Linked DNA regions of Homo sapiens: region 2 is linked to region 1. A link means that fine-mapping ties the variant in region 1 to the expression of a gene that starts in the linked region. Tissue or cell type: esophagus mucosa. Region 1 holds a variant in brackets; the other region holds the start of a gene. All regions are shown on one strand. Distances are from middle to middle.

Evidence for each region. PIP is the estimated chance that this variant, and not a neighbour inherited with it, causes the effect.
Region 2: it holds the start of OSBPL3, and the variant in region 1 is fine-mapped to the expression of OSBPL3 in esophagus mucosa (GTEx, PIP above 0.99).

Annotation. Positions count from the first base shown.
Region 1 is chr7:24,815,115-24,820,114 of GRCh38, forward strand. OSBPL3 (oxysterol binding protein like 3) reads right to left here. Exons shown (of 23, transcript NM_015550.4): 18 at 1,496-1,574; 19 at 1-89. Among named protein-coding and RNA genes, the nearest start is that of GSDME, 60 kb to the left of the region's middle. The variant T/A (reference allele first, on the strand shown) is at 2,967.
Region 2 is chr7:24,977,838-24,983,973 of GRCh38, forward strand. OSBPL3 (oxysterol binding protein like 3) reads right to left here and starts at 2,341. Exons shown (of 23, transcript NM_015550.4): 1 at 2,049-2,341. RefSeq lists silencers at 1,731-1,940, 1,991-2,500 and an enhancer at 3,641-3,810.

The sequences.
Region 1 (5,000 bases):
TCTCTCCATAGTGCTCAATCCACCTCTGCCCGCTTAAGATGTTATGGATGCAAGAGGTCACTTTGTTCCACTCAAAATGATCCCCAAAACTAAAAAGAAGGAAAAAGTAGAAGTACCAATTTCTAGAAGAGCCAGCAGCAAATGCAAACAAACTCTGCTCTTTTATAAAATAAGTCATGCAATGCATTATTCATCTCTTTATTCACAGAAGCAACACTGGCTAAGTGTCTATGTCACACTGGATGTTCTAGGAGCTTCCACTCTCCAAGGAGGCATGCATGCCACAGAGAATGACAGCATTCAGACTTTGCACTCTGGAAGCTACCAGAGGCTTCACTAGAAGCTGGTGGTCTCTTGGAACAGCCCACTCCCTCCTTTGACAGAGGAGGCAATTCAGAGCCAGAGGGGCTTGTCTAATGTTGCTGAACTAGGAAAGGGAAGCTTGAGAAAGGGATGAAGGTTTTATACAATCTGCTAAACATACATTGCCTGCATCCTTTGTGATGAGAAAGTATTCAGATATTACTTATGGAATTCAATAATTACGAGGAAAATGGTATTAATAATAAGACCAGATACTTACAAAACATATGCAATGTGCTAAGTACTATTTTAGGTGTTTCATGTATATTATCTGTTTAATCTTCACAATAGCCCTAGGAAGTAGGTGGTTTATTATTCTCTTTTTCTAGATGGGGAAACTGGTGATGAGAAAGGTGAAGTAACTTGCCCAGGGATTCGCTGTTAGTAAGTGCCAGAGTGAGCAGGTGAATCTCGGCAGTCCAGTTTCAGAGTCCCTGCTCAGAAGCATCTTGCTTTATAAATAAGTATCAATCATCCCTATCAGATCAAGGCCATACTTTTCTTAAAAGGGATTTTGATAGCAAAGCAGCATAATAAAGGAAAAACACTTTTTTTAAAAAAATTGAGATAGGGTCTCACCCCTTCACCCAGGCTGGAGTGCAGTGGCACGATCACAGCTCACTGTAGCCTCAACCTCCCCAGGCTCAAATGATCCTCCCACCTCAGCCTCCTGAGTAGCTGGGACTACAGGTGCGTGCCACCACTATGCCTGGCTAATTTTTGTATTTTTTCTAGAGACAGGGTCTTGTCATGTTGCCCATACTGGTCTCAAACTCCTGGACTTAAGCAATCTGCCCGCCTTGGCCTCCCAAAGTGCTGGGATTACAGATGTGAGCCACTGCGCCCAGCTAAAACCACCATTCTTAATCTTGTTAGGAAGTGGAAATGAGTTTTTAATAAGCATCTATTCAGGGAACTTTGGTCTCCAGGAGGCATTTCCATTTGAGGGAGAAACATTTTTTAAAAGTGAGCTTGCCAAAAGGAGGAACATTTAAACCTACTGTCAGACAGATTAAAAGAAAAAATACACACTCAATGCAACTGCCGGGGGCGGGGGTGGGCATCCTGTCCCCAAAGCAAAATCTTGGCCCTAAATTCCATAAAGCTCCTTAACCACAGAAGAAGAACTTACACTGGCAGAGTCACATGGGTTGTGCCAATTGGAACAATTTCCATGGATTTGCCCCAGAATTTGTTTTTCCATCTCACATCTGAAATGAAATACCAAATATTACATTTTTAGCAGGAGAGGTAGGTAGATGAAATAGTTCCTAGGCTAGATAAATGATCAATCGCTATATAGTACAACCTCTTCACAATCAAGTCAATTATTGTATAGGATAACTTTTCATAAAATATAAGTACCAACCCCATATGGGCCCTTGGAGCAGAATCAGGGAAACTAAAATGATAAGATAAAGTCCTTTCCATGAATGCGAGAAGTGAAAACAAGTAGTAAGCACACAGAGAGGCCCAGGCTATAACTGAGTGTGTTATAAGGTAAAATGAAACCTGAGAAGAAGGAGTGACGAATATGCTTGGAGAAAGCATCAGAAGAGGCTTGTCAGAAAGGGCCATCTAAATGGGGCTTTGAGGAATAAGCAGGAGTTCACTGGGCAGAGAAAAAGCAATTTAAGGCCAAATAAATAGCTTGTCTGAGGGGACGGAAGTATAGGAAAACACAGTCAAATAGTGTGGTTCTGTCCTATAGGTCTCAGATTGTCTTATCTAGAGAAGAGTAGAAAGGTTGAGAACAAAACCAGGTGCAGTGGCTCATGCCTGTAATCCTAGCACTTTGGGAGGCAGAGGTGGGTGGATCATTTGAGATCAGGAGTTCGAGACCAGCACAGCCAACATGGCGAAACCCCTTCTCTATTAAAAATACAAAAATTAGCTGGGCGTTGTGGTGGGTGCCTGTAGTCCCAGCTGCTCAGGAGGCTGAGGCAGGAACCCAAGAGGTGGAGGTTGCAGTGAGCCAAGATCATGCCATTGCACTCCAGCCTGGGTGATGGAGTGAGATTCTGCCAAAAAAAACAAAACAAAACTGAAAACGAAAAACAATGGGCTCTCCAAGCCTGGCTAAGAGTCTGGTTTGTGTGCACTGAGTGGAAATAATCAGGCCACTGATGTGATTAGACATGGACCTTGCAAAGGCAATTGGAAGCCATATGGAGAATGGAACAGGAGTAGGAGAGAGGAGAAGCAAGGCGACAAGTTAAGAGGCTACTGCAATTGCCCAGGGGATAACAAACGGGATGAAGGGAACCAAGACAACAGACGCGGGGAAGTGAGTGAGCCCAGAAATACTAAAGAAGAAGAAATAGGCACTAGGTCAACTAGGTGACAAGTTAGATACAGACTGAAAAAGAACGAATTTATGAACAATGTCAGATTTCTCTAACTTGCAATGAATGGTGGTACCAACAGAGAAGCCAGGAAATAGAAAAAGAACAGCAAGAGGATCCCATCTGGCTGCTGCACTGAGGATCTACAGATCACAGGGAAATCAGGGTTGAAGCAGGGGGGACAGTGGGGAGCCCTGGCTGGGGTCCAGGTGAGAGAGGTGGGTCTGGGACCAGCGAGCACAGTGGGCCTCATATTGT[T/A]TAATCCTATTTATATAAAATGCCCCAAACAGGCACATTTATAGGCTGGGGAATATTGAGAGAAATGGGGCAGGTGGCAGAGGGGGTGGATAATATTTGCTAAAGAGGATTCTTTTTGGAGTGATGAAAATGTTCTAAAATTAACTGTGCTGATAACTGCACAGTTTATTAAATTCACAATTCTGTGAATAAAAACCATTGAATTGTACACTTTACACGGGTGAATGATATGGTATATAAGTTATATGTTCATAAAATTGTTACCAAGAGAAAAAAAAGATAGATGGCTGTTTAAAGCTAAAGTATTAACAATGTACTACATGGTTTATGATATACAGAAGACGTATGAAAAAATAGTAGAGAGGTTGGGAAGGGAAAATGGAAGTATACTTCTGTAAATCTCACTATATGAAACTGGCATAATATTATTTGATGATATTAAAAATATATAACATAAATCCTAAAGTAACAACTTTAACAAGAAACAAAACAGGTAAGTATAGCTAATAAGCTAACAGGGGAGATGAAAGAGAATGATAGAAATTATTCAATCCAAAAGGCAGAGAAAGAGGAAACGGAGAACAAAGAACAGATGTGACAAACAGAAAAGAAACATCATGAGGGCAGATTTAAGCCCAGCTACATCTACAATCACAACAAACGGAAATGGTTTACACAACCTACATAAAAGGCAGAGAAATGTCAGGCTGGGTTACAAAGCAAGATTTGGGAATCCTAGGCCCATGGAAATAGGTAGATTGCTCAGGAAAAGGCTGATGGGGAAGTATGGCCTAGGAGAAGGATGCTAAGGCTGAGAAGGGAAGGATGTAACACAGGAGCACACAAAACTACTTTGAGAAGACCCCTCGCATTAAAAAAAAATCCAACTTTTGGCTGGGCGCAGTGGCTCATGCCTGTAATCCCAGCATTTTGGGAGGCCGAGGCAGGCGGATCACAAGGTCAAGAGATCAAGACCATCCTGGCCAACATGGTGAAACCCCATCTCTACTAAAAATACAAAAATTAGCTGGGCATAGTGGCGCATGCCTGTAGTCCCAGCTACTCGGGAGGCTGAGACAGGAGAATCACTTGAACACGGGAGACGGAGGTTGCAGTGAGCCGAGATCGCACCACTGCACTCCAGCCTAGCAACAGACTGAGACTCCATTTCAAAAAAAAAAAAAAAAAATCCAACTTTTGAAAAAACAAAGAAGAGGTGCTTATAGCATGAGTGAGATTTACCAATTAGGAGGCTAGGAACCTTATGAGAATATTTCCAGAGGGTTTTGGTGAGAGAGCAGTTTTAATTTTAAACTTTAATAGCAAAGGTGAAGAAAGAAAACCATGGTACTTGTCACTTTAAACTGGAAATACTGATTGCCTCCAAAGAGAGAAACTGAGTGGCTGGGGAAGGGGGTTACAGTATACTGTTTCGTACTTTTAAAGTTTAATAGACTGCGTGTGTGTGTGTGCCTGTGTGTGTAAAGGTAACGTGTGATATCACTAGTAGCAGAGAAAAATATTTTTAAAATGTATATGTGCTCACTGTCCAAAAACCTAGGATGCTTATATGTTCCTTCTACAGTACACTTTTTTTTAATAAATTGAGAGATTAACAAAATTAATCCATCTAGGAAATATCTATAGCCTTATTTATTCTTTAGAAGATTTACCCACCCAACCCCAACTCAAAATATAAACTGAACAAAATTTTAGGAACAATCATCTCAAAAATGAAAAGAAGTAAGCAATGTAAAACACGACTTCAGAAATAAAATTTAAGTTTGACAAAAGCTGAAAACCCCTCTGCTGTCTACACTCTGATAAACAACTGTAAATATTTAATGTCTCTTGAAATATGTGAGGCATTTCAAATGATTTTTACATAAGATAAAGTTACAGAAATAAATGGAGGTGGCTCAGATAAACTAAGTGAGAGATGAGAGGCAAGAACAGGTGGCGCAGATCCTTCCAACCAGGCCCAAATCCAAGGACCACTTTTGATCTCAGTAAGAATTGACAGCAATTCTTGGA
Region 2 (6,136 bases), 160 kb after region 1:
AGCGTGAGACTACGTCTCAAAAAAAGAAAAGAAAAAAGAAAATTACAGCTTACTGCAGCCTGGGAGTATCTGGCTTATGATGTAACTATTAACGATTACTGAAAATATATCTCAATAATAAAACAGTAAATCTTTTGGCTAAGCCATAGCTTTTGATACAAATAAAGCTAAATGCCTATTAACTAATGGTGGAAACCACATTTTAGTTTATTCGAAGAGGTCAAGCACAATAGAGACAAAATGGGCTGGAATCCTAGTTCTGCCAGGATAACCTTGGCAACACAGGTTAACCTGCTGGACCCTCAATTTCCCATCTGGTTAAAAATACCTAGCTAACAGACTTCTGTAAGTTTAATGCGGTAATGTACAAAAGTTCCTAGTATTGCTATTTGTTAATTTTCCCAACAGTAAAAAAAGGATAAAGATGAAAATCAAAATCAGCTATGAAATCCTCATTCCTCATATTTACAGAGAAGGTTTCATTTATTCATTCTATAAATGTTTACTGCAAACCTACTGCGTGTTCTTGACACAGGGGATCAAGTGATGAACAAGACAGACAAGGTCTCTGCATTCCTGGTACTTACATCCTAATGAGGGAAGGCAGATAACCCAATAACCCAAAGAGACAATTTCAGAGAGAAATTTAAGTGCTATGAGCAACAGCAAACGGGTGATGTGGCTTGGCTGGAGGGGATGGTCATTTAGCTTGGATGCATAAGAACCTAGGCCTGCTTGACTGATCTCCTTTAGCCAAGTATAGTCCTTTAGCCAAGGACCTCACCTTGTATGATACTTGCGGGGTACAGTGCAGATGATGAGAAGCCAGGCCTTCGCTTTCACCCATCTGTGGAAGTATCTCTTTTGCAGCTGTAGTTTAAAATATTTCTAAATGCCCTCATCCCAATACTCAAACTCTGAGGGTCAGAGCAACACCTAGGGGGTCTCAAGCACCTCTGCGCAGTACGCAGACACATGGAAACCGACAACTTCACAGTCCCCTCAGCTCCAAGAGTCCCGACTGAGGAGACTGGTGGCTTGTGAGGCGGAGAAGGACAAGCACAAGTGTGCAGAAGGCAGCAAGCAAGTTGCGTTGCCGAAGGAAGGGCGGCGCGCCCCTGCTTAAGAAGTATCTGGACGACCTGCGACAGTGCCCATCAGCGACTCCAGAGGCCACAAACGCTCCCCGGGAAGCTGGGCAGCGCTAAGAGGCTGCCTGGGAGTTTCTGGCTTATGATGACAGTACTTAAAGAATTTACCTGACCACGGAATAAACAGAGACAGAGGTAGGAAAACCCAACTGTAGACAACGTTCAGACAGAGTGCATAAGTCCCTAAGACCCTGAACTAAGACGCTGCAGGGCCTCCAGGAAAGGACCAATGTGAGAGACACTGAGACGAGAGTTAGGGTGAGCCTGAAGGTGATCTGAACAGTAGTAATTGGAAACTAACAAAAAAAAAAAATTCCAGAAGGGGCCAGAAAGCTGATGAATATGTAAATTCAGACAAGAAAGGAATGTGCCCTGGGCCTCCAGCCCAGCACCGGGGAGCTGAGCAAGCCGGGGTTGGGAAGGCGGGCGAGCGGAGCGCCTGCCCCGCGAGCGTTGTCTCAGTCTCTCCGGCGCGCCCCATCCCGCGGATGTGGTAAAGCTTCGCGCTCGCCCCAATTTACCAGGCTTCCTGAGCCTCTAGCCCCGGCGTAGCGCCTCCCCGCTGCCCAGGACAGCTCCGCGCGCCGCGTCCTCCCGCACCTGCGCCGCGGCCCCTGCGCTCGGCTCCTCCTGGCGGTCAATCCTCTGAGCCGTCCCTCGAGGGAAGGTGTCCTGGGGTGGGTGAGACCCGGGTCCTCCTTCCCCGGGAGCTGCAGCCGGCACCCAAGCTCCCAGGCTTGGGTCTGCCCCAGGGCCGGAGCCTCCCCGGGCGACTCGGACAGACCCCGGTCCGGCAGAGAACCGCGGCGCCCCGCAAACAGCAGCCCTTCCGAGCCCGCGCCGCCGCCAGGCCCCCCGACACCCAGGCCCCATTTAGGCGGGCGCCCCGCCACTCACCTGAGCGCTGTGCAGCCGGAGACGCTCCCTAGTTCCCCGGGGCCGGGCTCCGGGGTTAGCGCACAGAACCGGGAGAAGGCAACCCCGGCTTCTCCGGTACCCCCGCAACGTGCAGCTGACAGCTCCCGCACCGGCCGCAGGAGTCGGGGGCGGGGATGGCCACTTGCAGACAGACTGCGGGGCCGGAGCCGCGCTGCGCACCGGCCGCGAAGCGCTCAAGTCCCCTCTCCCGGGCCGGCTGGCGGGCGCCACCAGCACGCGGCCAGTTCTGAGTACTTTGCCCAGAACTTCTCGGCGCGCGCCGCCCGGCGATTAGCCCGAGGAGCCGCGCAAGGGCGGGAGCGCAGGGGAGGGGCCTGAGAGGCCCAGGGGCGGGGCCCCGAGGGGGCGGGAGGGCGGCAGAGTGATGCACAATCTCACCAATCAGAAGTCGCCTTTCGGGAAGGAGGTGGGGCGATGTCCTCGGAAGAAGCCAGCGGATTCCATGACGCGGCGGGGGAACTAGGGACCCCGGATTCCGGATGGGTTGGGAGGGCGGAGGGAGGCGAGTCCTGCGGCGAGGCACTGGGTGGGGCTCCCGGTGGCCCAGCTCGGTGCCTGCGCGCGGTAGGCGTTCGGTAAATGTTCCTCTAGTGGCTTTTCCGGGCCAGGGAAGGAGGAAAAAGTGAGGGCAGCGCGGGAGGGGCAGGTTTACGGAGAAGGCTCCAGGGGACCCTTGCGGTCGCACAGGCTAGGAGAACTCGACCTCCCGAGAAAGTCAGACTGTGGCAGAGGAGTCGAGAACAGAGGAAATACATAGGGAGGCAGCACTCTAGGCACGAGATGACAAAGGACAGCATCAGTGTGAGACCCGGGGCTCGGAGACCGTGACCCTACCTCCAGAGGCAGTCGTGCAGATTCGTGCCGGGGTGATTTTGTTCTGTGCAGTTTATGTGCAAGGGGGTAGGAGGTGGGGAGAGCACCGTCGTTACTATTAAATCTCCCTGAAAGACGGAAAAGTCCACCCGACTTGACTTCCCACTAGCCCAATGGCCTTCTTTGATCCTAGGACGAATGCAAGCAGCTGATGGTTTGGGGTCAGTTTGCAGACTGCAAATGTGTCGAGTGCCGCAGGTGGCGGGTGGGAAGGGCATGAGCATTTAGTGAGCACCTAGTATATGCCAGGAGCAGTTGCGAGCTTGCAACTGTGAGAAAGGCGCACCAGGCTCCAGTACTCACGGGGCTTGCATTTTTTGTGGAAAGACAGACAATAAAGAAGAGAAAATACATATCTATGCAAAAAATAAAAGGCTGACAGACTGTTAGTACTGAGAGGAGGGCCAAGTCCACTTTCGAAAGTGGTTTAGCGCGTGATGGGGCGCTCACCCTGAGGGCCTCTAGGCGAGGGTGGCTTTTACCCAGATTCCTGAGCCTGGGAAAGGAGCTGCCACACCCAGTCTCGCACAGAGCGTTCCAGGCGAAGGGAATAGCAAATACAGGGTATTTAGCCTCCCTGAAGACCCAACTAACCGACCTCACCGAGCTGGGCACCGCGCGTGGCTCGCTGGGCTCAGCGCCTGGGACGGAGTAAGGGCTCCACAGTGTTAAATCCCCCTGCCAACCACCACCTGCAGCGCTCGACGCATTTTCAGTCTCCAAACTGACCCCAATTCAAGGTTTCTGAGACTCTTTCCGGAGCTATTCTGTTCACATTTCATTCACCACGCTCAGATCTTCGCTTTCTGGAACCATCCCCCTCGCGAAATGTCTGGGACTGTCTGTTTCGGATCTGGCAGGCGGCGGGCGAGGGCGGGAGGCGCCAGAGATGCTGCCGAGCAAATCCACTGTCATGCTGCCCACGTCGGCACACGGAGAAGCTTATTGGAGAAGATTTCAAATCGAATGACTCCGCGGTTCCTAAACCACCTCGCAAAGCCCGACCAGCGCCAGGTGGCTGGACGGGTAGTGGAAGGACGCGTCTGGCAGGCGCGCGGACCGTCCAAGGAGGCACCTTGCCCACGCCCAGCCCCGCCGTCGGAGCAGCTTAGACTGGGTTTTCCCAAACCTCCTTCCGTCTTTCTGTAATTTCTCTCTGAGAGAGGCTTGCTCTGTCCTCCTCCTGCCAGTCCCTTTCCTCGTTCAAGCTATTTTCTTTCTTTTTCTTTTGCTCTCCACCTTCAGCCTCTCCGCCTGTTTCTTTAGCATTGGTTTTTCTGTAGGAGACAAGCCTTCAATCCGAAAGGAAGTGATTTGCATAGGGCTTTGTTGTTTAGCATCCCGTTCCGAGCTTTTTCATTAATGTCTTCCTAATCAAATAATAATAGAGTGTACATTCTCTCTCTCTCTCTCTCTCTCTGTGTGTGTGTGTGTGTGTGTGTGTGTGTGTGTGTGTGTGTGTGTACTTGAGGCAGTTAATTGGACAGGATGAGAGAATTATTCACATTGTGCCTTGTCTCCAAGTAAAGGAGGAATCGTACTGTGGCTTTTCATAGTTTCATTTCCTCTTCTACTCCTAAATAAACTTCCAGGCTCTCCAGCTCCTAAAATCAAAAGGAAAAAATAAAAATAAAAGTTGAAACCCACGCAGAGCTAATTATTCTTGAAAAAGTTTGTTAATGTTCTAAAATCAGCTTTCTCCTCAGCGTCTTATTTTAAAATAACGATTTGAATGTCTAATAAAGACCAGTGGTTCCATATTAAGAGTTCCTAGAGACCCTCTTCTTTGAACTGTTGAACAAATAATTTTTCTCTTTGGAGACAAGCCCACCACAGTGGGAATTTTTCACATGTGACACAGTGGTCTTAGCTTCTGAAATTGGTAATAGGTAAGCGGGTGCTACTTGAGTTTGCATGTTTTGATAGTAAAGGAAACTGAGGGCCTCTAGAATCAGACTACCTCAGTTCCTGTCTTGTGATGACCACCTGATTCTGCAATCACCTTTCCTTGTCTGTAAAATGGAGATATTTATGTAGCTGCTGGACTACAGGAAGAGTTTGATCATCCATTTGCAAACAATTTCCGCATAGTCTAGTGCAGAGTTCTCAACCTCAGCTCTATTAACATTTTAGGGAGATAATTCTTTCCTGCTGGAGGTAAAGGTTGGGGGGGTGCTGTCTTGTGCATTTAGCAGCATCTCTGGCCTCCACCTACTAGATTCAAGGAACACCCTGTCCTCCCCAGTTGTAACAACAAAAAATCTCCAGACTTTTGCCAGAAGTCCTCTGGAGGGCAAAATCCCCCCTGATGAGAACCACTGGCATAACACATAGTACGTGCCTGCAGGAGGCGATATAGGGAAATGCTTATGGATATGGGTTTCTAAGGTGTGAACCTCAGGCAAATTTTGTTTTCTTAAGCCTCATCTGTAAAATAGGAATGATAATAATGCTAACTTCTTAAAGTTGTCTAAGGATTAAATACAATTGTGAATGTAAAAGCAATTTGCATAGTGCCTGGCACATGGTAAACTCAAAAGACTCAAAAGCTTCTGGTCTCATTTTTTTTCCTGTGAAGAGAAGGCATTGGGCTAAATTAGGGATGACACATCTTGACTTATTTGCTGCCACTTTCCTCCCGCCTTGTAGCAGACATCATTATGGCAGTCAAGGCTGCCTTATCCGCTAAGTCCAAATAGAGCCTCAGAATCGTTCTCAACACTGCGAGAAGCTGCCACTGATAGGCCAAGATCAGCATGTAAGATAATGCTGAATTGCCATTCTGGGGCTAGATGAACTTTAAGATCCCTAATAGTGTCAGTCTTCTGATATGATTACAAGTGAGGAGGAACTATTGTTTATCACTTCATCAACTTCTTTTATGAAGGGGTGGCGGAGCAAGGCCCAGAAAGTTGCTAGTGTCTTGACCATAATCATACAGCCTATGAATGGTCAGAGGCTAAGTCTCCTCTTAAAGAGCCATCTTTTTGCCACATCTACTGCCTATGGAAAGTGGGAAAAACACTTGTCTAAAGCAGAGTTGCCACCCTCTCCACCCTGTACAGCCCTACTCATCTTCTTCCTCCTTCACTTTTATCTGAAAAATGAATCAAAGTATTTAGTTGCATATGAACACCTTGTAAGCATTCTTTTACAACTGTTAGTATAATTCT